Homo sapiens: one gene and its partners. The protein of the gene in region 1 interacts with the protein of each later gene in a biochemical or structural test. Each region holds a gene or a part of one and is shown on either strand. Other genes may lie near its edges.

Evidence for each region.
Region 2: the proteins of SETD7 (region 1) and SIRT1 form a complex in vitro, tested with the Homo sapiens proteins (one study listed by BioGRID and IntAct).
Region 3: of the proteins of SETD7 (region 1) and SOX2, one has a biochemical effect on the other in vitro, tested with the Homo sapiens proteins (one study listed by BioGRID).
Region 4: of the proteins of SETD7 (region 1) and PPP1R12A, one has a biochemical effect on the other in vitro, tested with the Homo sapiens proteins (one study listed by BioGRID).

Annotation. Positions count from the first base shown.
Region 1 is NC_000004.12:139,546,205-139,553,234, reverse strand, and holds part of SETD7 (histone-lysine N-methyltransferase SETD7), read left to right. Parts: intron 1-5,115; exon of another isoform or gene 5,116-5,216; intron 5,217-6,185; coding exon 6,186-6,315; intron 6,316-7,030. UniProt on the Homo sapiens protein: Histone methyltransferase that specifically monomethylates 'Lys-4' of histone H3. H3 'Lys-4' methylation represents a specific tag for epigenetic transcriptional activation.
Region 2 is NC_000010.11:67,901,656-67,908,655, reverse strand, and holds part of SIRT1 (NAD-dependent protein deacetylase sirtuin-1), read right to left. Parts: intron 2,494-7,000; exon of another isoform or gene 2,402-2,493; coding exon of another isoform or gene 2,369-2,401; intron 1,867-2,368; coding exon 1,719-1,866; intron 611-1,718; coding exon 531-610; intron 1-530. UniProt on the Homo sapiens protein: NAD-dependent protein deacetylase that links transcriptional regulation directly to intracellular energetics and participates in the coordination of several separated cellular functions such as cell cycle, response to DNA damage, metabolism, apoptosis and autophagy.
Region 3 is NC_000003.12:181,707,166-181,714,952, forward strand, and holds SOX2 (transcription factor SOX-2), read left to right. Parts: upstream 1-4,759; 5' UTR 4,760-5,195; coding exon 5,196-6,149; 3' UTR 6,150-7,271; downstream 7,272-7,787. UniProt on the Homo sapiens protein: Transcription factor that forms a trimeric complex with OCT4 on DNA and controls the expression of a number of genes involved in embryonic development such as YES1, FGF4, UTF1 and ZFP206. Binds to the proximal enhancer region of NANOG.
Region 4 is NC_000012.12:79,932,078-79,939,926, reverse strand, and holds the start of PPP1R12A (protein phosphatase 1 regulatory subunit 12A), read left to right. Parts: upstream 1-4,829; 5' UTR 4,830-4,995; coding exon 4,996-5,232; intron 5,233-7,849. UniProt on the Homo sapiens protein: Key regulator of protein phosphatase 1C (PPP1C). Mediates binding to myosin. As part of the PPP1C complex, involved in dephosphorylation of PLK1. Capable of inhibiting HIF1AN-dependent suppression of HIF1A activity.

The DNA of each region.
Region 1 (7,030 bases):
TCATGTGCATTTGGTTCTCTGTCAGGGTATGATTGTAACTCTGGGAAAGTTCTGAACTCAGAGTGGACAATTCCCTGAGGTGAGGGGAGTGGCGGAGGCTGTGTCGAGAGAGTGTTCTGTGTACTGTGTTGGCTGTGCTCTTGTGGGAAGAAGGCAGCAAGCCCTGGGCCTCAGAGGACCTCAGAGCTCCACCTGAGCTCTGGTGTGGCTTTTGGAAAACACTTTGAGACACACTGGTTCAGTGAAGAGTGATGTTTAGTTTTCCAGTGTTATTCCCCTGGGCATCTGGAAACAGAAATTTATCACAGCATCTATTTCTTTGTCTACCCATAGATACAAAGATGAATATGATGTGGTCTCTAATATGATTTCAAATAAATATATCTATACAGATGAATTGTGATGGTTGAGAGGAAGTAAAAATTAGTTCCAGCTTAGGGAAGTCAAAGGGGAAAGATTTTCCAGAAGAGGTGCCATAGAGCTGAGTCAGGTTGAGAGGGGAACTTTGTGAGTGAAGACACGGAGGCATGGAATTCTGCGGGTGCACCCAGAGAACAGTCATTTGATTTTGCTGCAACATGGAGCTTACAAGGAGAAAAGTGGAGGGGAAGACAGGGAAAGGAGGCTGGGTAGCAGGCTGAGAGCATGGACTGTGTGCTGGAAGCCATGGAAGCCGTGGGGGCTCTTTAGAAAAGGGAATGACAGGATCAAGGCTCCACTCCGGGAAGAGGAACAGGCAGTGGCCAGCAGGACAGTCAGAGGGGCTGACACAGCAGATGAGGTACCTTGAAGTCTCTTTGCAGTGGTCCAGATGCACAGTTATGATGGCAGGAAAAACAGAAGGGCCTGGAAATGTGTAGGAGACATGGAGGAAGAATGATCAAAAAGGGGAAATATCAGAACAAGGGGCCAGAATGAAAATAAGCAGCTCAGTGTTCCACTGCCACAACCCCTTCAAAATATTAAGAATATTTTTTATTAACACTCCCCCTAATATCAGATTCTACTTGTCTCTGCTAAGAGTGCTCATGCCCTGTATCTAGGGAAAATGCATATGAAGTGTATTTGTAGCACCCTTTCTGTGTGGGCCACACATTAAAATCATGACCCTCACAATTAATAGATGAACCCTTGCCAACAATTACCCTTAAAAAAAATTATCCAGGTAACAAACTTTCATATGTACCCCCGGATCTAAAATAAAAGTTGAAATAATTTTTTAAAAACCTAAAAAATTAAAAAATTTTAAAAAGATCAAAACATCAAGTTATGTTTTTAAGAGTTGGTGATTGAATGCATCACCAGGAGGGCATGTTCTTTGCATTAAACAGAATAAGCTTGCCTTTTATTATTGTTGTTTTTTGTTTTTCAATTTATTTATTTATTTAATGAGATGGGGTCTCACTGTATTGCCCAGACTGGTCTCCTGGGCTCAAGAGATCCACCTTGGCTTCCCAAAGTGCTGGGATTACAGGCATGAGCCACCGCGCCCGGCCTATTAATTGTTGTTTTTTAAAGCAATGTTCTAGTGTACAAAACCAACAGTGTGTGCGTAGGGTCTCTGGTTCTAAGGGAAATACTCACACGCCACTCTCAGATCTCTTGTGAGTAAGCCTGAGACATTAAGCAGCTGGGTGTCTGATCCAGAGGGAATTTACTTTGCTGAGATTGAGATGTACATTGCTGCTTAGAATATAGGCCTGGCTCTTATCAGATTCAGGAAGAAGCTCCCTCAGAAGTAACTAGAGGGGAAAATTGTAACTTTCTATCTGTTCAATAGATAATGACCATAGAATAAAGTGAAAAAGTAGACTTGTGAACTGATACTTTTTTCCTTTCTCTAACTTCTGTAAATATTTAAAATCATGCTACAGACAGATACACAGAACATTAGCTCCGGCAACCTTAAAAACACAGAGCAGTCATTCAAGTTAATTTTCCCTGTTGCTTGGGCCTGGTATTCACCCTCTGTTCAGTGGGAACTCGCCTGGAAGGCTGTTGGCTGACTTGGCGCATTTTACAAATTGACCTCATGCAGAGCAAGGAGGACTAGTGTTTCCCTTCAAGTTAGATAACACTTGGAAGAGATAGGACTTTGCAACCGGGACATGCTGTTGGAAACCTGGTGGTTCTGTGTGAATGATCTTAACCACAAAGCCTTCTTCCACTTCCCTGCCAGGGACCTGGGGGTTCCTACCTTTTTAGAGGTACCTTCTTACCATCACCAAGGAAGAGTGTGTTCAACTAGTTTGCCAGTGTCTAGAATGGGAATTAAAGGATTTGGAGAAGGGGCTTTCAGTATTCATCAGCACACTCAGTGTGGCAATGTCTCTTGGGCAAGTCTCATAAAGCATTGGTGTCTTCATCTGTAAGATGAGAATATGGGAGACTGTTTTGAGGCTTACATTTGATAACAGGAAAGCATATAACCCAATGCCGATCATAGTAGATTCATACACTTTTTTTCTCCTCTGTTTATCAGTACCCCTGTGCATTAAATTGACTTACTGACATGACAAAATATTACATGATCTTATTGTCCAAATATTAATGATCTTATTGGCATTTGAAAAAGTTATGTCAGATTCTGTTCTAGCACTAATGTTGAAAGAAGATGTAAGAGCACTGCAACCTAGTCTCTTCTCTTTCTCATGGAAAGTCTCTGTTATTGTTTTGGTTGTGGCTGCTGTTTTAGACATAAAGTTCTACTGCTAGGAAAACTAATCCGGGATATTAAATATTCAGAGTGGAAGTCTCGAATGATCACAACCCTTAATCTCTAGTTCCTTTAATTGATCACACCCTAGGGATGTAAAGAAAACAAAACAAGCCAGGAAGAGGCTCCTGCTGTCGTCGAATAGATTTCAGAATTCTCTCACAACCAGCAATCTAAAAGCCTTCAGAATGATAGGGAGTGGTCACATGTCCAAGCACCTCCTTAATGTGCAAGGTCACCAGAGTAATGGCCATCATTTGGTAGCTCTCCCCTGACCTTGTCTCTCCCAAGAGATTAAGATGATGATAGGGCTCCTCTTCATTTGCCTGTTGAAAGGCACTGAGGCCAGGTGTGGTGGTTCTTGCCTGTAATCCCAGCACCCAAAGTGGGTGGACCACTTGAGCTCAGGAGTTTGAGACCAGCCTGGGCAACACAGTGAGACCCTATCTCTATAAAAAAAAATTTTTAATTAGCCGTTTTGGAGGCTGAGGTGGGTAGATTGCCTGAGGTCAGAAGTTCGAGACCAGCCTGGCCAATATAGTGAAACCTCATCTCTACTAAAAATACAAAAAAATAAGCTGGGCTTGGTGGCAGGTGCCTGTAATCCCAGCTACTAGGGAGGCTGAGGCAGGACAATTGCTTGCACCCGGGAGGCGGAGGTTGCAGTGAGCCAAGATCGCACCATTGCACTCCAGTCTGGACAAAAAGAGTAAAACTCTGTCTCAAAAAAAAATTTTTTTTTTTAAATTAGCCAGTTGTGGTGATGTCTACCTATAGTCCCAGCTACATTGGAGGCTGAGGCAGAAGGATCACTTGAGCCTACAAGTTGAGGTTACAGTGAACTATGGTCTCATCACTGCACTCCAGCCTGAGTAACAGGGTGAGACCCTGTCTCTAAAAAATAAAGGAAGGAGGAAGAGAAAGAGGGAAGGAGGGAGTGAGGTAAGAAAGGAAGAAAAGGAGAGAAGGAGGGAGGGAGGCAAAAAGGGAGGAAGGAAGGAAGGAATAATTCTTCATGGAGTGGAGTTGACATTTTTGTTGTCATCTCAACTGGGATCAGTACTATCCTCCAAGGGCTTACAGTATGTTATATGACACTTTCAACTTTCCCTAATATCTAAATTCCATTGCTGAGGGTGCACCTTCAGTGTTTTATTCAGAAATAGCACAGGGCTGAAGGAAGGTGGAAATTAATTTATATTGGACATTTTTTTCTTAGTGTTCAGATTTATTGTAATTCTCTCAATCTAAAGTGGAATAACACATTTTATCAAACATAAGCTTTTAAAACTCTGAAATATGTGAACTGTTTTCTATGGTGAAAGCATTTTCAACAAGTTAATAAATGCTCTAGTATGAGGCTAAACTGATTATTTGGATATTAATACCTAAATCAAAAGTAGGACACTGAATTTATATGCCTAAATTTAACTTGATCGCAACAACATTTCACTAAAAAAAGCTCTTAGCAATACACTGAGTGGCTTTTTTTAATGAAAAGAAAAAAGCAAATTTAATTTATTTCAATGAGAGAAATGGCATCAGATATTTAGAAAATAATTGTCCAAGTGATTTCATATGACTCAAATGTCATTGAATTTATGTCATGTACAATTAGTTTTTGAGCGAGAAGAAAGCAATTATGGCCTAGTTCCCTTCTGACCATTAATTTCCTGGGCCTTTCCTCTTTTGTGTTAAGAGGAAGGGATCCATATTGATTATGATTTATTTAAGTAGATGTGTCTTATTGTAAGATGTTCTAGGTAACCCATTGTATACAGAGTCAGATGTAGCAATAAAACACTGTAGTTGTTTGCAGCTATTTTATGTTTATGTAATTAATGATACAAATAAAGAGCATATTTATTCTTTTTATTGTTGTTGTTGAGATGGAGTTTCATTCTTGTTGCCCACGCTGGAGTGCAGTGGCACAATTTTGGCTCACTGCAACCTCTGCTTCCTGGGTTCAAGCGATTCTCCTGCCTCAGCCTCCTGAGTAGCTGGGATTACAGACGTCCGCCACCATGCCTGGCTAATTTTTTGTATTTTTAGTAAAGACGGGGTTTCACTGTGTTGGCCAGGCTGGTCTCAAACTCTGGACCTAGGGTGATCCACCCACCTCAGCCTCCCAAAGTGCTGGGATTATAGGCGTGAGCCACCATGCCCGGCCGCATATTTATTCTTTATAAGAGTGTGTACTTACCATCTTTTCCAAGGGCTAATATTCTTTTATCATGTTAGAATAAATTATTTGAGGAGACTAAAGCTTTCACTGTGGTAGTATGGTTTGTGTTGCCTTTTATGTCTGTGAGCCATCTGGAAGCTACATTTCAATGTTTAATGTCCCTGCATTAGACACAGTGTTTAATGTTTTCATACCTTTTCTCTCCATGACCCAGGTTATTACCCCAAGAAAAAGCCAGTAGAATAACTACTGCCTTCATTTTCACCCACCTCTGCAAAATCAGCTCACCAGAATGATTGGGAAGACACCAATAAGGTGATTCCTGGGTTTTGTAAAACATGTAGATAGTAATAAAAAGCATAAACATTGACTGTAAATGTCAGTATTAAACTATACCAATCTTTGACCTAGGAATAACCAGTGACTTAAAAGTCCATGTAATAACTTCTGCTGATGTTCACAATCATTGCTTAAATGACCATGTGCATACTCTGGCTCCATTTAAAACACAAGCCCTCTGAGACACAGTGGTGGACGGTATAGGATAAGGTTATTACTAAACATTCAAAGCTGAAAGATTTTGTAAAGTAAACCAGTAGGTTTAAGGTTAAGCTTAAGTTTAAGGTGAGAAGGACTCTGGGTTTCTGTGTTTGTACAATGAGCTATATAAATCTTAGGGCAGTTTTAAAGATATGACACTGTTCCTTGTGTGAATATAACAATAACAGTGAGATTTTCAGACTGGCTAGCAGTCCTCCACATCATATTATAGAATGATGTATAAAATCATATTGCATACTTAATGTTCTAGAATTAGATAATTTATTCCAAAGACTGTGTATGTGGCAATTGACTATAAAACAGTGGAATCTCAACCACACTTCAGTTAAGCATGAGAGATTGGAGGCATCAATTCCAAATATGAGGACTCTCGGGAGAGTACTTGGTAAATTGTGACATGCCCTGCAGATAATATTACTGATAATGACTCTCAGTTCCAGGTAAAAAGCAAGCTTATTTAAAGTTCATATTCTGGAATGTGTCTAAGTCTGTTCTGGACCTATCAGTTCACAAAGTGTACATAACAATCAATTTGGTACTGCTGGTGCCGATGAGGTGAGAAACTTTTGCACGCTGACTACCCTTTCTTTCCAGGGAGGGGACCCTTTGGCAGCTGGAGGGGAGTTGGGTGGGGGACTTGTCTGGCAGCATCTGAATGCTTAGACGTCAGATGGGAGGAGCACTGAAGATGTTAAGGTTTGCCTTGTGGTTCCCTTTCTCCAGGGCACCTGGACGATGACGGATTACCGCACGGGTTCTGCACAGTCACCTACTCCTCCACAGACAGATTTGAGGGGAACTTTGTTCACGGAGAAAAGAACGGACGGGGGAAGTTCTTCTTCTTTGATGGCAGGTAGCACTCACAGTTTTATTTTGTTCTTTGGGGGTACCGAATTATTTTATGTTAAGGACTAATACAAACGAAAGAATTCAAGTGGAAGTTTTTCTACAATTTATTCAATGGGTAAAATTAACCCCTACCTGTAGGCACTGCTTTGGTGACTGGGGAAGTCACCCTGTGGTTATGGGACAGCCAGCCTAAGGCTTAGCTCTTGTCATCACTGTCTCCCAGAGTGTGCTTGGCCAAAAGATACCAGATTTGGGGGCCCCCATCTTGCATAAGTTGGTTACATGGTCACCCAATTCTTTGATGGATTTCACTTGATCATTCCGGTAGCGCATCTCCCTGAAGTCACACAAGTGGGGATCGTTTTTGTCAGTGGCCAGTTTGCACAGTTCCAGTAAAGTCAGATTCACACTTTTTTCCAAGGGTCACACACACTCTATTGCGTTCAGCACACTCTCCCAGATGTCACAATCTGGCATCTTAGTACCCCGAAGCAAGATTCTGCCACCTTGTTGGTTCTTCTGCTTCATCGGTTTCTCAGCTTGTTGCCTCTCCTCATGAGATTGATGAAAAAATGCTTGGCAAAGTTCTTCAAAGCCACATCATTGCAGTCCCAGTAATAAGACATAAACAGGTACACACAGGAGGGCAACTCTCTAGACTTCAATTTTTTAAATGCCTGTCTTTGGGATAGTTGGTCTTTTTGTGTGATAATTTAATA
Region 2 (7,000 bases), on another chromosome or scaffold:
CTGGGATTACAAGCATGAGCCACTGCACCCGACCAATGACTCCATTTTAATATACTATTCTTCCTCTTTCGTAATGACATGATTACCTCCATATATTGCTAAGCACACAGGACATATTTCTGGATAATTTTTATTTTCTGCCAAATTTTCCTATATTTTTTGGCAATGAACATGTATGAAATAATTTTAGATTACCATAACTAATTTAAGGTCCAAATCTGACAGGCACAAAAAGGGAGAGGAAGGAGAAAAACTACTACAACAACAACTTGCTTATGATCTGACATTTTATGTTCGGCTTAGATACTAAGAAGCCAATTTCATAATTTGAAGAGCCTTTATAGGGCTGTTTTCTATATAAGGTATTGAAAGGTTCTCGTGTATTTTACCAAAATTCCCAAATGCTAACTATTTTCTTCCTGAATCTTTCTGTACCATATATACTTTAAAGGGGTAAAAAAGGATTTTGAGGCAAAAGAAGAAATACTTCAGAGACATGAACAATTCCTAAAATATGGGCAACAAATTACCTGATTAAAAATATCTCCTCGTACAGCTTCACAGTCAACTTTGTATTTACAAATCAGGCAAGATGCTGTTGCAAAGGAACCTAAAAACAAACAACATATATATGCTTTATTAAAGAAGTATTTCTGTTTCTTGAACACACCACAAACGTTATAAAGTTTAACATCACAAATGTTAAGAGGGTTTAAGGATTTTTGTTTTTGTTTTTAACTTTGATTTTAAACCTCAGAACACACTGCAGATTTTGTGATATACTACAGGAGAATCTAGGGGATGAAGAATTTATATATTTATACATAGAATGAATATGATTCTCAATCTCTGAGACACTAATATAATGATGCCTTCTAAAGCTACTCTTTTCAACAAAACTGTAACAGCTCACTCCTCCAGGGCTAAAATCCTGCAGAGTTGGACAGTTCCAACTCTATTACCTTAGCTCGGCAGTTCTTAGAAACACTTTAGATACCTAATGGCCTGTTGATACTTGTTTTAAACATTTCTGAATCTCTGAATCCTGTACATCTCAACTATCCAGTTCTTTTAGTTTCATAAACTAAAGATGTCACATTTCTTCATTAACAGCTAATACTACTCTTGTATTCAGAATTTCTTTTTCTTTTTTTTTTTTTTTTTTGACAGAGTCTCACTGTCTCCCAGGCTGGAGCGCAATGGTGCAATCTTGGCTCGCTGCAACCTCCAACTCCCAGGTTCAAGTGATTCTCGTGCCTCAGCCTCCTGAGTAGCTGGGATTACAGGCGCCTGCCACCATGCCCGGCTAATTTTAGTATTTCTAGTAGAGTTGGGATTTCACCATGTTGGCCAAGCTGTTCTCGAACTCTTGGCTTCATGGGATCTGCCCGCCTCGGCTTCCCAAAGTGCTAGGATTACAGGCGTGAGCCACTGCACTCAGCCAGAAAAGATTATTTAAAATAATTGAATGCATGCAACTGCAGCATCTTTTGAAATCAAAAGCAAATTAATATCTGAGGTTTTCTATAATTAACTGTCAAGGCCAATACTTCTGTTTTTATTATTTTTGTTTTCTACTTTTCTGAGGTTATCGATAAATGAGATAACATGATTAAATAATGCTTTATCTCCACTTCTCGATGGCAGTCAGCTTTATAGGAAATATCTTCCTATAAAACTAAAATAAATTACAGAAAACCACTCTGAAGTTTACTAACCATGACACTGAATTATCCTTTGGATTCCCGCAACCTGTTCCAGCGTGTCTATGTTCTGGGTATAGTTGCGAAGTAGTTTTCCTTCCTTATCTGACAAGGCTATGAATTTGTGACAGAGAGATGGCTGGAATTGTCCAGGATATATTTCCTGTATCAAGCAAATGGTAGAAAAAATTTACATTAGTGAAATAAACTACAGATGTCATATGTTTAACAAAAAAATACTGATAATCCCACACACATAATTTTAAAAATGAAATAGATGAGCATTTTAAAGTATCTAGATGGATGCGACACACACCTACAAAAGGACGGTTGCTGTCATATGCATAAAACTCAGCAATTAGTGAACTTGGCCCCTTGAAGAAAAAGACAAAGTCGGCCCATAAACATCTCTAAGAAATGTTGATATTTTAATAAAAGTCAGAAGTAATACAACCTTAGGATATCTAATTTTTGTTGGCTGCAAATTCAGATTTTTTTCTTTAAAGAAAAATGGGAAAGTTTAAACTAAAATTACAGATATCAAGGTAGGGTGATTTAAAAAAAAAAGCACTGTCAATACAAGAATATTTAAAATTTTTTTTTGATTTATCATTCATTAGAATATCAACCTGCTGGAAGTTTAAAGCTAAAGTTTTAATCCTTACCAAAATTGTTTTCCTTCCACTGCACAGGCACATACTGGTATAGTATAGAGTTGCTCATGAATGCTGAGTTGCTGGATTTTGTGTGTGTGTTTTTCCCCCCAAATAATGCTTCAATGCTGTTTCTTCTTTAAAAACAAAGAATTCAGATATACACATGGCAAAAAGATCAGAGAAAAAGTATCAATTTTGGTCCTCCCAACTTTTGACAGTGTTTTTATTAAATTCCATTTAGTAAGTGACTATGGCAAAGGAAGTTTATTCTCTACTTTTTCCTTCAAAGTAGTAGTGCTATCATCTACTTACTTCCTTACCATTCATTACAGGCTCTAATCTATCACAATGCTAGCAAAAAACTAGACACAACCATATGTCCATCAATAGGGAACCGGTTGTATAAATATGGTACATCCATAATAGTGGAATATGTAGCCATTAAAAAGAATTGAGGGAGATCTAGATGAACTGCCCTGGAAAATGGTTCATGACATACGTGAAAAAAGCAAATTAGTCACCAGTATGTGTAACTTTTGTTTTTGTTACTAAGCAAAAATTGAAATTATATGCATATGTATATAGAGATGTCCATTTAATCAATCAAGTCAGGAAGGATACAAACAGGCTGTAAGCAGATGTGGGGAACTTTCACTTCTGACATTATACAAAAAAGTTTAATAGAGATTAAAGATGACTTTTTACCTATTTAATCTTTCAAATTAAAAAAAAATTCCCACTGCAACTTCTAGGTTCTACTACCCAGGCTTCTAAGTAAAACTTAAGTGAATTCCGTTAACAGCTATCACATACATGTACACATGCTGCTAAAAACCTCGTATAAAGAATCCAAAAACGTTGCCTTAGATTCAAATATTTATCACAAATTTCATGAATAACTCTTTGCAATTTAAGAAATAGAGAGTGCATATAGTAGCAAGGGAAAAGCTTAATAAAGTCAATGTTTACAGAAAATCAAAAGCCACTGTTTTGGAAAAGTGAGTTCAGTTAAATCAACCACTGTTTTCTTCCCCAGAATGCTTTGTTCTAGTACATTTACATTTGAGAGATTAAGCATTGTATGTCTCATTAAAGCTCCCTCTGGAAATAGCTTTTAGAGTATTTTAGGCACTATGAGAATATGCTAGGCAACAGATAAAATAGGACCTATAATAGTAAGCAAGTGATAATAGCATGCCAAATGCAGAATTTAAAAAATAAAATAACTCCAAAGCAAGGTCAGGGAAAAAGAGCAAGTACCAAGACTCCACCGTCCCTGAATTAACTGTGTGCCTTATCCACGTCCACCCCCACCCTTTCTAAAGGGTAGAGTAAGAAACACAAAGATGTATGGGACACTAGATTTAGCTCTTATTAATTCAACTACCTTTAAGACAAATCATAAGGGACATTTTTGTTTTATTTTATAAGCCTGCTTTTTTTTTTTTTTTTGAGACAGAGTTTCGCTCTTTTTGCCCAGGCTGGAGTGCAATGGCGCGATCTCAGCTCACCACAACCTCCACCTCCCGGGTTCAAGTGATTCTCCTGCCTCAGCTTCCTGAATAGCTGGGATTACAGGCATGTGCCACCACCCCAGCTAATTTTGTATTTTTAGTAGAGACGGGGTTTCTCCATGTTGGTCAGGCTGGTCTTGAACTCCTGACCTCAGGTGATCCGCCCACCTTGGTCTCACAAAGTGCTGGGATTACAGGCGTGAGCCACTGCACCCGGCCAAGCGTACGTTTTACATATGTGAGAATCTGAATGATTTGAGTCTTTGACTCATACTTTCTGTCAAGTATGAAATGGGCCATGTCTGAATTATTAGATTTAAATATAGTGTTCAAACTAAAAGTAGTAGTACAGGTGTGGTGGCTCACACCTCTAATCCCAGCACTTTGGAAGGCCGAGGCGGGCAGGTTACTTGAGACCAGGAGTACGAGACCAGCCTGGGCAACATGGAGAAACCCTGACTCTACAAAAAACACAAAAATCACAAAAATTAGCTGGGCCTCACGGTTCATGCCTGTAGTCCCAGAAACTCAGAAGGCTGAGGTGGGAGGATCACCTGAGCCCAGGGAGGTAGAGGTTCCAGTGAGCTATGATCGTATCACTGCTCTCCAGCCTGGGTGACAGAGTGAGAGCCTTTAAAAAAAAAAAAAAAAAAAACAAACAAAAAAAACTAAAAAATCTGAAATAATGAAAAAAATTACTCTGGAAGGACTGTTCTAATATACCACTCCTCCTAAGATAGGACCACTTGTTGAAAACCAATGACTGGAGATACAACTTACAGATAGAATATGGATTAACTCTTCCATGGTGAAAGTGTGACATGCTTAGTCCTATTCCAAACAAGACAGGCCACCCAGTTTGAATATCCTAAAGCCTTTTTAAGCAACCAATCATGAGGGCTGGGCCATTCTGTTGCTGCCATAGGGATCCTTATAGACCAAGAGTGGAAGCAGAACTGGAATCAAAGGCTCAAAACACTATTAAAACAAACCCTGCTTTCACATAGCTGTGTCTGGAAACATGCAAATAATCCAGGAATTGGCCATAGGCAACCAACGTGGTCAAAACTAAAGCTTAGAACTATCCGCAGAAATTGGCCGGATGTGGTGGCTCATGCCTGTAATCCCAGCACTTTGGGTGGCCGAGGTCGGCGGATCACAAGGTCAGAAGATCGAGACCATCCTGGCTAAGATGGTGAAACCCCGTCTCTACTAAAAAATACAAAAAAAAATTAGCTGGGCATGGTGGCGGGTGCCTGTAGTCCCACTACTCGGGAGGCTAAGGCAGGAGAATGGCGTGAACCCAGGAGGTGGAGCTTGTAGTGAGCCTAGATCACACCACTGCACTCCAGCCTGGGTGACAAAGAAAGACTCCATCTCAAAAAAAAAAAGAACTATCTGCAGAAATAATGGCTTTTCTGCAGAGATTATGCCTTTCTTTCTTCTCCAAATTTCTAGCAATATGAATAAAAGACCCTAGAGTAAAAGGCATAGGTGTAAATGCAGTCCCTCAAGACTAAGAAAGCTGGGCATGGTGGCACAGGCCTGTAGTTCCTGCTACTGGGGAGACAGAGGAGGGAGAATCACTTGAGTCTGGGAGTTAGGGAGCTGTAGTACTCTATGATCGTGCCAATGGATGGGCACTACACTCCAGCCCGCACAACATAACAAAATTCACACCCACCTTTTTTTTTGAGAGTCTCGCTCTGTCACCCAGGATGGAGTGCAATGGCACAATCTCGGCTCACTGCAACCTCCACCTCTCCTGGGTTTAGGCAATTCTCCCACCTCAGCCTCCCAAGGAGCTGGGACTACAGGTGCGCGCCACCACATTCAGCTAATTTGTTTTTAGTAGAGACAGGGTTTCACCATGTTGGCCAGGCTGGTCTCAAACTCCAGACCTCAGGTGATCCACCTGCCTTGGCCTCCCAAAGTGCTTAGGATTACAGGTGTGAGCCACTGTGCCCAGCCAAAATTCCCTCTTTAAAAATCAGAATTTTTAGAGAATTCATCAAAATTTACTGATGTTAATCTTTGCTGATATCCACCCCCTCCTATATATAGTTCAGATGGAGGCAGTTAAGTAGAGTTGCTGAGAAAATAGAACCTAAACTTTCCTTCCTGTCAAAAAAAGTGAAATGCATCAATCCTGCTAAGGAGAGTCCTCATAATCCCTCCTGTCTCTTTCATTCCACAAAACCACACTTGAATAAACTGCTCAACATCTTAATCAATACTAATAAATTGGTCATATGACAAATTCAACTGTATTTCAATATATAAATAGTATGGCTATGTTCTAATAAAAGTTTGTATTTATGAACACTGACATGAAAATTTTATATAATGTTCAAGTGTCATGAAACAGTTCTTTCAATTTTTTCCCCAGTCATTTAAAATTAATTATTAGCAGGGGGTGGAGGTGGGATTGGGAAGACGCTGGGAAGAATAAGTTCAGGAGATCTATTGCTGACTATAATTAAGAACATATTGTAGCCGGGCGCGGTGGCTCACGCCTGTAATCCCAGCACTTTGGGAGGCTGAGGCAGGCGGATCACCTGAGGTCAGGAGTTTGAGACCAGCCTGGCCAACATGGTGAAACCCTGTCTTTACTAAAAATACAATAACTAGCCGGGCGTGGAGACAGGCGCCTGTAATCCCAGCTACTTGGGAGGCTGAGGCAGGAGAATCGCTTGTACCTGGGAGGCGGAGGTTGCAGTGAGCCAAGATAGCGCCACTGCACTCCAGCCTGGGGACAAGAGCGAGACTTCGTCTCAAAACAAAAACAAAAACAAAAACAAATATTGTATACCTGAAAATTATTAAGAGTACATTTTAAATGTTCTCACCACCAAAAAAAAGTATGTGAAGTAATGAATATTAGCTTGAGTTAGCCATTCCATAATGTACACACATCAAAACATCATGTTGTACACCACATAAACTTTATTTGTTGATTTAAGTAATAAATTAATGCTTAATGCTTAGCTCACAGCCTATACAAAAACATGGAGTGGGCCACATTTGGACTGAGGCCATAGTACGCCAACCCCTGTATTAACCTAACACAAGAGAATGTCAATTAGTTAAACTGCCAGTCGCCACTTAATAAATTTTAGTATGTACC
Region 3 (7,787 bases), on another chromosome or scaffold:
CAATTCAGTTTTGAATTTTTGCTCTTACTTTCTATATCCTAACCTTTTCCAGCTTATTTCTTGTTAATTGTTTTTGGAAAGTATGCAATGCTCTTTTAAGGGAAAAAAAATCTTCTAATGCACTTATTTACCTTCATTTATATGTGTTTGTTTCTGAAATGAAGAATCAAGCTTTGGTCATTCCGGAAGTCGTGTAGCATGCTCCAATTTGAAGTGACTGAGATCTTTTGTGACTTACAGAGGAGAAGGAAATGTTTTAAAAATTGGCTTATGCCAGTCTCCTTACTCTGAAATTCTCAATTTTCTTGTATTACAGGATAAATATAAATATCATCTCACCAAATTGTACCAGCATTGTCCTAAACATTTAAATTTTCCTTTATTTTTGGCCTTTAAAATTAGAAAATTTTCTCCAGTTGCTGCACTTAGCTTTTTAATTTTGTTTTCTTTTCACTTACCAGACTACTGGTATGATCTCTTTCACTGCAGTATGATTGCTGCTATGGTCACTTTTAGAGGAGATTGTGGGAAGGTTAGGATTTGGAGGAAACATGACAAAAAAGGGAAGAAAAAAAAAAACCTTCATTTGACCACATCTGGCTGCTTGTATATTTAACCAGTTCTAGAATTAGAAAACCTTTCTGTACATTTTCTTCTATTTTTCTCACTTTTTTCCTTACATAATGAAATTAAAACTTTTGGAGCCTACAGTTGACATTTTTCAGAAAATTGAGTTATCAAGGCAGTAATTATTTCACGGGGAGATAAAACTCTCATAGCCCTAACTGTCAAATAGGGCCCTTTTCAGATTTTAATTACAAAATAAAATTAGTCTGCTCTTCCTCAGAATGGTTTGTGAGTGGTTAAACAGAGCTTTCCCCCAATACTGGTGGTCGTCAAACTCTGCTAATTAGCAATGCTGAGAAATTCCAGTTAACAAGGACATTCTCCAAGACTCTGCAGGTTCCCTGCCGTTTGCCTTCATTTCCATAAGAAGATTAAGAGAGGAGGGGAACACACTCAAATGCAGATGCAGAAAAGAAGCGTTTTTTAACAAGCATCATAATAGTAAGATGCTTGGCTAGTTCTCACCTAATTACTGCAAGTTAAACCTCTATTTGACACTAAGAAGAAAAAATAAGTCTACAGTCCCCTGTCTCCACAAAATTGTTAGTTGGTTTCAGATATAATACTTGAGGAGTGCTGAGGAGACTTTAGGAGAGAAAAATCAATGTGCAAGATTTTGAAATAAAATTGAGTTACACTTAACAGTTAAGGCCTTTTGGCTAGGGCCTATAATAGAACAAAATAAAATCAGAATATTCCAGGAGTCATGCATTTTTGTTACTAACTACTAATCTTGCTCTAAAAGTATGTAGCTTTTTGTTGCCCGTGGAAGGGAAGTGTTACACTCCCTTTAGATTAAGCACTTTCAATTTTCGTAAATTGTGCCAATGGCAACATTTTAGATTCTCAGAGGATGAAGCATCCTGTTCCAAGTCTTTTTTGATTGTCTAGTAGTCAATGGTATATTGTTGTTAGTACTGTAGCTGTCTATTACAAACCTAAAACAGTGTTGCTTCTGTCATCTATTGGAATCGTTATAGTTATTATATTTAGGGATCAGTGATGGTGCTGGATTGAAATAGAGTGGGCAGTGATCTGATTTTTTAAAATGCATATGTTCTAAAAAATCTAATGAGAAAATGTTCCTGCTATCACCATCTTCTTTAATCTTATTTTCATAGCACATTATTATGCATAATCGCCAGCCACAGTTAGTTTATTGTCTCGATAAGTACAGCAGGCTTAATTAAAATAAAGCTGTAAATAAATGCAACCAATGATAACACAATTGTAACGTAATTCCATAGCTTATTAATGTGATAAAAGCAATTAATAAAAGACCTAGCCAACCCCTTTAACCTCTTAAATACATTATTATAGAGTTCATGCACAAACACATGCATCTGAGAATGTGTAAAAGTTGTTATATATCCTCCCAAGGAAAAAAATTGTGCCTTGAGAGAAAGGCAACGAGATTTAAAAGATTTGTGTCTATAACCGTCTGTTATTAGTATTTATTTTAACAAATATACACCACCCTTATCCACACCAATTCCTTGGTTGTTTCTTCAAACAATTATCCACAAGCTTTTTAAAGTTTTTAGAATAATGCTATTAAGCAGACCGATGCATACACAATCATAAAGTGAATTCTTGGTCTGCCCTTTGTGGCGTCTGGACAATCATAATTCATTCACATGTTGAATCTCATAATTTGTACCTATTTTTTCCCATGGTCTAACCTCCCACTTACCTCGAGGTTGTATGTATATTTCTAAGTTAGGCAAATTAAATCTGATTCTTATGATTTGGTTCCGCAGCTTATAAGATATGTTAACTTTTCTTTTGTTTAGATTATGTATAATTAGTCTGATCTTCCATCCCCCTCTTTTTTTTTTTTTTACTTTAATTATTTTCAAATACCTTCTTTTAAAGGTAAAAGCAATAGTCTTGGAAAAGCGAATCTACCAGCAGGGGGCGCACCAGCCACATCCCTGAAACCAGCCGCGCTGAAAAGCCGGTGGCCGCCTTCTCTTCCCCAGATCTTCTCAACCTTTTCTCTTTCCTAATCTCCAGGTCCGTGTTTACCTTAATATTACACCTGGATTAAACAGAAAACAGTGCTGTATTTTGAAGAGCGCCGAATATGTATGCATTTTGAGAAACCCAATCTCACCCTTTCCGGGTTCCCAAGAACTAAAACAAGCCATAACTTGAGAGAAAAAGGAGAACCTTCGGGGGGCAGGAAGGTTGATTGGAAATAACTTAAGGAAAGTCTGCAGAATTCTTTTTTTTACAACTTTTCTGAGTTTCCAGTGGGTATATTTAGTGTGAGTTTGACAGTAACAGGCTAGGGAGGGCAGAGATTGGAGAAATTGGGGGTCGGGGGAGTGATTATGGGAAGAAGGTTAGTAAGGAACAAAACAATGCACCGTTTTGTAAAGATAATAAATGGAACGTGGCTGGTAGATACTATTCAGTACATTTTCTTAGGGTGAGTAAGGGTAGACCAGGGGAGGAGGGGGCGGAGAGAGTGTTACAGAAGAAAGAAAATAAGTAACCCTGATGGTTTAAGCCCTTTATAAAAAAGAAATGGCATCAGGTTTTTTTTTCTTTATTCCCCCCCACCCCACCCTTTGTAGTCAAGTGCATTTTAGCCACAAAGATCCCAACAAGAGAGTGGAAGGAAACTTAGACGAGGCTTTGTTTGACTCCGTGTAGCGACAACAAGAGAAACAAAACTACCTATTTGTAACGGACGTGCTGCCATTGCCCTCCGCATTGAGCGCCTACCTATTGAAATCTTTACGTCGGGACAATGGGAGAGCGGCTAAAATTACCCTCTTGGGTCCTGGGCGGGCAAGATTCCTGAGCCCCTACCCCCGCCCCCATCTCATCCTCCTCTAACCCGGGCCTTGCTGGGCTCCCCCTTCCCCAGTCCCGGCCGCCTTCTCCCAGTGTGCGCTGCCTGCACCTGTGCCTGGAGAGCATCGACCCCGCCTCCCAGGCCTTGAGCCCCTTTGCGGCGCAGCCCCAGCCTTGCGCGGCCTGGGCTTTGCGGCCACCACAATGGAAATCTACGGGGAAAATGCCAGGGCTGGTTCTGCTGGAGTCCTGGGAACTCTGCGTGGGAGGGAGTTTGTGACTGCGGCCCAAAAGCCACCTCCATACAGTGCCGTGGGATGCCAGGAAGTTGAAATCACCCTCCCCCATCGCCTGCACTTTTGAGCGCCCTTCCGTCTGTGTCTTTCCCCAGCCCCCATTTGAAAGCCGCACGACCGAAACCCTTCTTACGGGGAGGCATGGGATGGGAATGGGGAGTGGGGGCAGACAGTAGAAGCATCCCCTTTGCTACGGTTGAATGAAGACAGTCTAGTGGGAGATGTGGCTGGGGCTAAGAGGAAGAGCTGCAGTTTCCTGGGCCAAAGAGCTGAGTTGGACAGGGAGATGGCAGCTTACCAAGGCCTGCTGGTTCTCAGCTCTAGAGTCTGCCTTATGGTCCGAGCAGGATTTATTTTTAAGAACAGAGCAAGTTACGTGGAAGCAAGGAAGGTTTTGAGGACAGAGGTTTGGGTCTCCTAACTTCTAGTCGGGACTGTGAGAAGGGCGTGAGAGAGTGTTGGCACCTGTAAGGTAAGAGAGGAGAGCGGAAGAGCGCAGTACGGGAGCGGCACCAGAGGGGCTGGAGTTGGGGGGGAGTGCTGTGGATGAGCGGGAGAACAATGACACACCAACTCCTGCACTGGCTGTTTCCAGAAATACGAGTTGGACAGCCGCCCTGAGCCACCCACTGTGCCCTGCCCCACCCCCGCACCTTAGCTGCTTCCCGCGTCCCATCCTCATTTAAGTACCCTGCACCAAAAAGTAAATCAATATTAAGTTTAAAGAAAAAAAAACCCACGTAGTCTTAGTGCTGTTTACCCACTTCCTTCGAAAAGGCGTGTGGTGTGACCTGTTGCTGCGAGAGGGGATACAAAGGTTTCTCAGTGGCTGGCAGGCTGGCTCTGGGAGCCTCCTCCCCCTCCTCGCCTGCCCCCTCCTCCCCCGGCCTCCCCCGCGCGGCCGGCGGCGCGGGAGGCCCCGCCCCCTTTCATGCAAAACCCGGCAGCGAGGCTGGGCTCGAGTGGAGGAGCCGCCGCGCGCTGATTGGTCGCTAGAAACCCATTTATTCCCTGACAGCCCCCGTCACATGGATGGTTGTCTATTAACTTGTTCAAAAAAGTATCAGGAGTTGTCAAGGCAGAGAAGAGAGTGTTTGCAAAAGGGGGAAAGTAGTTTGCTGCCTCTTTAAGACTAGGACTGAGAGAAAGAAGAGGAGAGAGAAAGAAAGGGAGAGAAGTTTGAGCCCCAGGCTTAAGCCTTTCCAAAAAATAATAATAACAATCATCGGCGGCGGCAGGATCGGCCAGAGGAGGAGGGAAGCGCTTTTTTTGATCCTGATTCCAGTTTGCCTCTCTCTTTTTTTCCCCCAAATTATTCTTCGCCTGATTTTCCTCGCGGAGCCCTGCGCTCCCGACACCCCCGCCCGCCTCCCCTCCTCCTCTCCCCCCGCCCGCGGGCCCCCCAAAGTCCCGGCCGGGCCGAGGGTCGGCGGCCGCCGGCGGGCCGGGCCCGCGCACAGCGCCCGCATGTACAACATGATGGAGACGGAGCTGAAGCCGCCGGGCCCGCAGCAAACTTCGGGGGGCGGCGGCGGCAACTCCACCGCGGCGGCGGCCGGCGGCAACCAGAAAAACAGCCCGGACCGCGTCAAGCGGCCCATGAATGCCTTCATGGTGTGGTCCCGCGGGCAGCGGCGCAAGATGGCCCAGGAGAACCCCAAGATGCACAACTCGGAGATCAGCAAGCGCCTGGGCGCCGAGTGGAAACTTTTGTCGGAGACGGAGAAGCGGCCGTTCATCGACGAGGCTAAGCGGCTGCGAGCGCTGCACATGAAGGAGCACCCGGATTATAAATACCGGCCCCGGCGGAAAACCAAGACGCTCATGAAGAAGGATAAGTACACGCTGCCCGGCGGGCTGCTGGCCCCCGGCGGCAATAGCATGGCGAGCGGGGTCGGGGTGGGCGCCGGCCTGGGCGCGGGCGTGAACCAGCGCATGGACAGTTACGCGCACATGAACGGCTGGAGCAACGGCAGCTACAGCATGATGCAGGACCAGCTGGGCTACCCGCAGCACCCGGGCCTCAATGCGCACGGCGCAGCGCAGATGCAGCCCATGCACCGCTACGACGTGAGCGCCCTGCAGTACAACTCCATGACCAGCTCGCAGACCTACATGAACGGCTCGCCCACCTACAGCATGTCCTACTCGCAGCAGGGCACCCCTGGCATGGCTCTTGGCTCCATGGGTTCGGTGGTCAAGTCCGAGGCCAGCTCCAGCCCCCCTGTGGTTACCTCTTCCTCCCACTCCAGGGCGCCCTGCCAGGCCGGGGACCTCCGGGACATGATCAGCATGTATCTCCCCGGCGCCGAGGTGCCGGAACCCGCCGCCCCCAGCAGACTTCACATGTCCCAGCACTACCAGAGCGGCCCGGTGCCCGGCACGGCCATTAACGGCACACTGCCCCTCTCACACATGTGAGGGCCGGACAGCGAACTGGAGGGGGGAGAAATTTTCAAAGAAAAACGAGGGAAATGGGAGGGGTGCAAAAGAGGAGAGTAAGAAACAGCATGGAGAAAACCCGGTACGCTCAAAAAGAAAAAGGAAAAAAAAAAATCCCATCACCCACAGCAAATGACAGCTGCAAAAGAGAACACCAATCCCATCCACACTCACGCAAAAACCGCGATGCCGACAAGAAAACTTTTATGAGAGAGATCCTGGACTTCTTTTTGGGGGACTATTTTTGTACAGAGAAAACCTGGGGAGGGTGGGGAGGGCGGGGGAATGGACCTTGTATAGATCTGGAGGAAAGAAAGCTACGAAAAACTTTTTAAAAGTTCTAGTGGTACGGTAGGAGCTTTGCAGGAAGTTTGCAAAAGTCTTTACCAATAATATTTAGAGCTAGTCTCCAAGCGACGAAAAAAATGTTTTAATATTTGCAAGCAACTTTTGTACAGTATTTATCGAGATAAACATGGCAATCAAAATGTCCATTGTTTATAAGCTGAGAATTTGCCAATATTTTTCAAGGAGAGGCTTCTTGCTGAATTTTGATTCTGCAGCTGAAATTTAGGACAGTTGCAAACGTGAAAAGAAGAAAATTATTCAAATTTGGACATTTTAATTGTTTAAAAATTGTACAAAAGGAAAAAATTAGAATAAGTACTGGCGAACCATCTCTGTGGTCTTGTTTAAAAAGGGCAAAAGTTTTAGACTGTACTAAATTTTATAACTTACTGTTAAAAGCAAAAATGGCCATGCAGGTTGACACCGTTGGTAATTTATAATAGCTTTTGTTCGATCCCAACTTTCCATTTTGTTCAGATAAAAAAAACCATGAAATTACTGTGTTTGAAATATTTTCTTATGGTTTGTAATATTTCTGTAAATTTATTGTGATATTTTAAGGTTTTCCCCCCTTTATTTTCCGTAGTTGTATTTTAAAAGATTCGGCTCTGTATTATTTGAATCAGTCTGCCGAGAATCCATGTATATATTTGAACTAATATCATCCTTATAACAGGTACATTTTCAACTTAAGTTTTTACTCCATTATGCACAGTTTGAGATAAATAAATTTTTGAAATATGGACACTGAAATTATTCTTGAGTCTTTCATTTATTTGGATAACACTGTGATTATACATAACTTTTCGGGGAATTATAATACTGTGCTCAGCCAAGAAAGCAAAATACCAAAAACCTTGGTATTACTAGTCCAGCATCATGTGCTAATGTTAACTGCAAAAAAGAAACGGCTGGATGATTAATAAGTACTGGAAAAATTGAAATTTCTGTCATTTCTAAAATAGAAACTAGAGACATATATTGTAAATCCGCCCCCTCCTTTTCTAAGCAGCATGAATAAGCATGATGGGGACCTATACTTAAAACTGATTTATGCCACTTGTTGCCAGAAAGGATTCAATTCTGAAATTTTTCATGTAGTTTAGCAGATGGGATATTGAGCCAAATCAGAACCAGGTTGGCTGGTTTTGTTTTCATTTTCTTCACAGCACAATGGCCCTTTGAAACCTGGCTATAGAGAAAAATGATGCTTCTTGTATCAGAATAATTGCAAACTAGACATGCAAAGTGTTCATCTGCTGGGTGGGT
Region 4 (7,849 bases), on another chromosome or scaffold:
GTCAGCATGTTTTGGTTCTCATGAATACCTTGTTTTTGCACTCTGGTCTGTGAAGGAATTTTAAAGCTTTTCCTAGGATTTGATTTGAAGGACAATTGAATGGATCCCTCAACTAAATATTAGTGATCCAAGATAGAACTCATGCACCTAAACTTGCCTTCCAGATATTGATCTTGTAATTTATTCTTCTAATTTCAGTGCCATGGAGAATGACTCTTATTTCTGAAATTCCTTCAGCACACAGATATTTTCATACAAATTGGCCTTCCTGCCAATGCCTTGCCTTGACACCTTGAGTTGGGGGTGCCACTAAGGCCTATCCTATAACCTTCACTTAATTAATCGTAATTATTATTACACATACTAATTAAAGTCAGTCAGTTTCCTAAAGTGTAGGACATGTAGACTGGTGGTACATGAGGTAATGTTATAAGGTAGATGTAACATTAAAACAACAGTGAAGCACTTAGCACAATATTCTTTTTTCACTACCTTTTAATCTTTCCGATTATGCTAAACTGAAAAATCTTAGGTTGATGCTCACATGTCCAACCCTTACCAATATCCCTTTTTTAACAAATTGAGAGCACAGCTTGGGCTCAGACCCTTGACAGACAACCTAACTAATGTTTTGTTTTCATTGTATTTGCTTTAACAGTCTTCTTTATGTCAAGTGGAAACGTTTTTCACTTACCAAAGCAACATAATGTTGCTTTAAAATAAATTTGTCTTAAAAAGGTTAAAGAAAACATTAAGCAAATACTAGTATTTGCGGTTCTTGAATTTGGCAATAAAACTGATAAAGTTTGGGAAACATTAATTCATATGAAAGGGGCATGTGATGTTCTGTCACATGATACAGGTTGGGAGTCATGTGCAATGGAGGTGAGTTATCTCTTTAGCAGTATAACTGCACTTTGGATTGTTGCCAGACACTCATCTGAGTCCTAGTTTTGGGGAACAAAAGAAGCTTTATGAGCATATTAGCCAGTACTTGTACTGTGATAGGGTTAGTTTCTTGAAATGGAGTCAGATGTGGCAGAAAATTTACCCTAAAGTAAATTAGAAACTCACCTTGTAATCCAGAGGCAAGGCAAAGATTAGATGCTATGATCTAGAAATCAGGATTGATCTAGCAATGGAGTCTGAAGCAAGTTAGGGTGGTTCCATGTTGGTTCTGGTCAACTCCCTGGGTAGGACTAAATAAATTATGATGTGAATGGATTGTAAACTTTTCTTCAAGTTCTTTTTTTTTTTCTTTTTGAGACAGAGTCTTGCTCTGTCACCCAGGCTGGAATGCAGTGGCACAATCTTGGCTCACTGCAACCTCCGCCTTCTGGTTCAAGTAATTCTCATGTATTCTCGGGTTCAGCCTCCCGAGTAGCTGAGATTACAGGCACGTGCCACCACGCCCAGCTAATTTTTGTATTTTTAGTAGAGACGGGGGTTTTGCCATGTTGGCCAGGCTGGTCTCGAACTACTAACCTCAGGTGATCTGCCCACGTGGGCCTCCCAAAGCCCTGGGATTACAGGCATGAGCCACCGTGCCCAGCCTTTTCTTCAGGTTCTTAAATAAAACATTGGAAAGAAATTATTATGCAATGGAAGAGAGTTTGGCCCAGGTGTAGAATACAGGAGACAGAAACAAGGTCCTTGTTGACTGTTCTATTCTCAAGTGTATAAATGTAAATTAGTATCTCAGGTTTAAATTAGGGATAAAGAGAACATAGATATATCAAAGTATTTATTAATATCTTATGTACATTTTTAACAAAGAGATTATAATAGCAGAAACAAATCTAAGCTGTGCATGTCAGCATTTCAAATATGTTTATAATTTAAATTAAGTTGATCATAATTAGCAAGCAAATTAATGGTAAGGAATGTCAGTAGTGTGATTAAACTTTGAAAAAGATATACACAGATCTCATTCTGACAATCTTGTGCATGTAATAAATAAAACCCCCAGCCAGGTACAGTGGCTCAAGCCTGTAATCCCAACACTTTAAGAAGCCAAGGCAGAGGATCACTTGAGCCCAGGAGTTTGAGACCAGCCTGGACAACATAGGTAGACCCCATCTTTACAAAACTTAAAAAATAAATTAGCTAAGCCTGGTGGTGCACGCGCCTGTAGTCTCAGCTACTTGGGAGGCTGAGATCATGCCTCTGCACTGCAGCCTGAGCGATAGAGTGAGACCCTGTCTCAGAAACAAAAACCTCCAATATGATTGATTTGGTGCAGCCAAAAATATATTTTTATATATACATATATGCAAATTAGTAAGTATAGTTTTATTTGTACTTCTATTTTAAGGCTTAATTTGCTTTAAAGGAGCTAAAATGTATCCTCACATCCCAATCTGTTTAGAAGCCATTAGGAAGTGAAAATATTTGCATTTTTTCCATTTGTTCTGCTTAGACAAATATGTAATAAAAGCATGTGTGTGTGTGTGTGTGTCTTTTTTTTTTTTTTTTGGTAAAGATAGGGTCTAGCTCTGTCGCTCAGGTTGTAGTGCAGAGAGCTCACTGCAGCCTCGAACTCCTGGGCAGAGTTCGCCTCAGCCTCTCAAAGTGATAGGATTACAGGTGTGAGCCACTGTGCTGGGACTGTGTGTGTCAATAAAAAATTTTGCTTGTTCTAGAATTAACCCAAGGTCTTCAGTACCATTAATTCACTAACAACAATTTAAAAAAAATCCTCCCTAAAGACAAAGTAGGTGGCAGTTTCAGAGTACTTTCAATATTAACATAGAGCATCTTGACCCTTAGAGCCACGAAAGAAGAAAAACTAAATTCAGTGAAATTTGCACATGATAGCAGCCCTCCTTGGTTGTTTTTTCCCTGACAGCTTCTGGGAACTGAATGAACTTAATTATGTTTTATTAATAAACTATTATTAATTTTGCATCCTGAAATAAGTGCTTGAATCAGGAATAGCATACTTCCCACTAAATTCCTTTTGCCTGAATGAAATCTTCAGATTCCCATCTATACTGCAAGGGCACTTTAAGAGCTACCACATAGGCCATAACGTTCTTGGAAAACAGGATATGCTGTCAGTTGCCTAGGTAGAGACAGGAGCTGACAAGGCAATCCTCAAGTTCCTTTCTTTTATTCTGAGAGCTGTATTCTGTGGATAGGGATTTTGTATTTTAGTGCTAACAATGTTTTTCAGTACCTAACACCATGAGTATTCAAAGGTCTGATGTTATCTTTAATGTATGTAATGAACATACAATGGTATATCTTATGAATATTACATTCATTTTCTATTCCTACAACGTTTTCAGAGGAAATATTTTTACCCTGACCTGGATTCTATCGCTATCCTAATAACTGTGGTTCAGAAAATTGTCTCACAGGCAGACAGTTTCCTAATCACGTTTTACTCAATTATTTTATTTCTCAATATGATAGGCTGTGAAGTAGTCCACTGGAAAAGGCATCATGCTGAGAGTAAGAAAAGCTTATTTGTTCACTGCTCTATCTCCAGCACCTAGAACAATGCCTGACCCAGAACAGGTGCATAGTATTTGCTGAGTGAATTCTAATCCTACTTCTGGGTAAAATTAAGTAAATTAATTAGTTCTTGAGGGACTCTGTCTAGATGACCCCTAAACTTCCATGGTAAGGTTTTGTGGTTTTTATCTTGGCTTTTCTAAATGCTCTAAAAATAGTAGTGGATGGTAACAATGCAGTGTTCAGTAAAATCAATTGGTGGAGATTGTAGATAGATGGCTCATAAGACATCAGTATTACAAATCCTATGTGTGTGCGCGTGTGGTCATACAAGGCAAAGTTAAAGTCTTTTTTTTATGACGATGATAAATTAGTCTTGTTTGGGCGACTGAACTCAAGAGGTGGTTCAAATAAATGTCATATTTTTCATTGTATCTTCAGTGCCTAGTACAGTTACTGGCTCATAGTAGGTATTCAATAAATAGTGGTTGAATTAATTGCCTTCCTTAACGTTCCGTTTAAATGCTAGACGCAGCTAGGTCTTTACCCCTCCTTAGAAAGAGATGGAGCTGTAACCAGAAATCCCTTAAAAGGTAAGGACCAGTAATCAGGCTGAGCTAAGCTCATGGGTAGTACGAGACAGGCTTAAAGCACTGAAGGAAGAAAGAAGAGAACCCAAGCGTGAGAGAAAGCAAAACAAAACAAGTAAAGAGAGGAAGAAAAACATTTCTAAAGTGGGGGTTGGCAGGAAGCCACAGCAATTACAGCAGGTCAACCCTTGTCAATAGGTGGTCACCTCAAGAACTTACCATTAAAACCCTCGGCCACACAGACCCCACTTTTAAAAGGTTATTAATTCTGACATGCCCAAGTTCATCTGAGTTCCTTAGAAAGATCAACCAGCAGCACCTACTTCACGACCTATCCTCCATTCCATTCAAATAACGCGGCCAATAGGAAAATCCTCCGCCCTGAGCCAACGACTCGGCGTAGCTGAGACAGCACGGGAGGCAGATCTGCCCTGTAGAGCCTTGCGGTTCCACTGCTGGCCTCCGGATTCCCGGGAGCCCCCAGCCCGACAGGACAACCTTCCTTCCCCGCTTCCTCCTTTCCAGGTCTGTCCCAGCCCCCGCTGCCTGGGCCACACCCGCTTCCCTCTGGTGGCCCAGCCACCACCGCCGCAGTTCGCGGGAGCGCTCTTCCTGGGGCGGGCACAGGCCCAGGGCGCATGCGCACTGGTCGAAGGGCGCCTCCCAGTCCGGATCTCGCGAAGTTACGTTAGATTGGCCGCCGGTGACGGGTGGCCGTGCTGGGGGCGGGAGGGCTTCTGTGGTAGGAAGGGAGGTCCGCTCGGCCGGGTGCGCCGCCCCAGTGCTCTGTGGGATACTGGAAGTCTCGAGCGTCGGCTCCGGGTTCCCAGCCCTCCTCTGGCCCGCACTCATAGAAACATTCACACACCCCCTGCCTCCCCTCTCTTCCCTCTCCGCCTCCCCCTTCCCCCCCTCGCGATAAGAAGACCCGGCGGCAGGAGAGGGGATGAAGATGGCGGACGCGAAGCAGAAGCGGAACGAGCAGCTGAAACGCTGGATCGGCTCCGAGACGGACCTCGAGCCTCCGGTGGTGAAGCGCCAGAAGACCAAGGTGAAGTTCGACGATGGCGCCGTCTTCCTGGCTGCTTGCTCCAGCGGCGACACGGACGAGGTCCTCAAGCTGCTGCACCGCGGCGCCGACATCAATTACGCCAATGTGGACGGACTCACTGCCCTGCACCAGGTCTGTGCGCCCCGCCGCCGGCTCTCCTGACCGTGAGGGTTCTCGTCGGCCTCCTGCTCGGGCCTGCCCTCAGTTCTCCACCTCTTGAGGCTGGGGGCGGCGGGAGACTCCCTGCTGCGGGGTGAGGGGGCGGTTTCCCCAGAGGGCGGGAGGGAGAGCTGGTGGAAGGGAGGGCGCTGGGCTTGAGGCCCCCCTTCAGAACAGTTGCTGGTGGAGTTGGGAACCGGGTGATTTCCGGGGCATAGGGGAAAAGGAACTGTGGTCGTTTGGGGCCCCAGGGCCATTCGTGGATAAGTCTGGGATTTGGGGTCGAGACAAGGAGGGGTGTAGTGGGGTTGTGCCTGGGCCCCGGTGTCAGTGGTATATTCGGAGGGGTGGATGCTGAAGGAAGAAAACTAACAAGGGGCATTACGGACGGTTAGGCAGATGAACATCTTTGACTTGTAGGTGGGCATTGGATTTGTTGCACTTTTTAGGACTTGATTACAAATGATGATAATAATAGTAATCTAGAGCCCTAAGCCGAGTGCCCTGAACGAACGATTTCCTGTTTTCTCATTTATTACTCTTGGTCACTGGGGAGGGGAAAACAGGGTGTAATTAGCTGATCTGCACCGGCTGAAAGGAAGGGGATGGAAGTGGGTAGAGTAAGGAAGCCCTCTAAAGGGCTTGCCCACCTCCGGACCGGAACGTGTTGAGTCTGATACTCGAAGTTTGCCGCAGTGTCAGAGATCCTTGAGCCCCAGGTCCTCGGGTGTGCACTGGTGTTAGAAAGAGAAGAATAAATAGGGGACACTCTTTTCAAAGCCGGTTACCAAGCTCTGGTTTTTCTTTTGGGGTTGGGAAAAAAGAAAGCTGGTCACAAACTTTTCTCAAAATGGATGCTTTGTGCATATTAAAGTTTTATAGTAGTCTGATTGGGATCTCTCAATGTTAGCCAAATAAGGAGAAACTATTGGCAATCCAGAGATAATGTTGCCTTGCCTTTAACAGGCCAAAAGCAACACAACCACGTAGAGTTATGCATAAAAAGCAATTTTTAAGTGACGGTAATAGGTGACAAAACATAGGCTTTTTCTATTTTCTTAGCGGGCAACTTGGAATAACTGTAATAGAAAATGACTTTGCAGCGATAGCTTCCCCTTAACAATGAAAAGACTTGTAAGCTATCTCAAAGTTGCCTTGGTTGTGTGTGGAAGATGCATAGCCTTATTTTGAATAATGTTGTAGTAAAAACTTGTTTGGGAGGTTGAAACTCAAGGCTTTATATTTCATGAATATTAACTTGATGCCTTTTAAAAAAAAGGTGTGTAGTGACATTTTTCCTTGTCCTGCTTACTGTTTAAGGGAGTGATGACCATTTTAAATTTTGTGTAATGGAATTCTCTTATCAGACTTGGAGTATAGCCTTTGTTTACAAAGTTGACTGGATATATTGAAATGATTGACACATTGCAGGACAAATATGGAATTAAAAATGTGGCACCCAGTAAAAATATAGCAGGGTGTCTAGCGCTTTCTCAATTTCATTAATTTAGATTCTCTAATGCATAGCAAACTTTTTATTTGGGTGAAGTTTATTTAAGGCATATCATAACTCGTAAAATTTTAAAACCATGGTGTTGAGAATGAAGGAAACTTTTGGCATTAAAAATGATAATGTAATTATATAAGATGAATCTTCAAATTTCTTTCAAGTGTACTTTACACGTTTTAGTGTGAAACAGATTTTGAAAGACGATTATTACTGTAGGAGGTCAGGATAATTGGATAATGGTTCGCATCAATATGTTTTATTCAAATTGTCAAATAGAAATTTAAAGTTACTATTGTTGTGGAGGAACCCAGTTGTATTGGCTTAGAGGAAGACGAAAAGTTTTGATATTTACATTATTGTGATACTGGTTTAGGGAGGAAGAGAAAATACATTTAACTGCCTTCTTAAGATCTTTTTTTCTCCTCTCAATATTCACACGTTACAAGAATTGTCAGACTTACCAATGTCTTCCTGATTAACTGAATTCAGTGGTCAGTTTGGTGTTGTGTAGATATATCTTTATTGGGTATTTTGTTTTAGTTGACAAACAGAAGTTTCTAAATTTACTCCATTTGCGTAATATCTTTCTGTCACTTTTTGTCACTGTGAGTGTGGGTTTGACCCGATAATCTCCAACCGCCTCCCCTTTTCCATAACATTTTTCCATATCTGCAAATGCCTTAAATCGGTGAAGCCAAAGTCTTTAAAATATCAAGCATTAAAAATTTGTGTTATGTTTTCTTCACTCTCATTTCTTATTTATCAACTCTTGTACTTTTTTCCCATTGTTACTATGAAAACAGGGAGTTCACTTTGGGCAAATTTAGGACAACAGTTAGTGAAAGACAATAAATAAAATTAAAAACCACACACACACAAGAAAATTTTAAGCCTTTAAGAAATCTCTTGAACTTAGCTTGTTTTCCATACTTAATTGTAAAAACTAAAATCACTGATTTAATAGTCCTTGAATAGTTCTTTAAAACTTTAACCTCTCAAAAGATCGTAGAATACCTAAAATGTATAACGGGGTTAATTGTTGATTGTTTTTTGAATATTCATTTACTTTCTGGTTTTGAT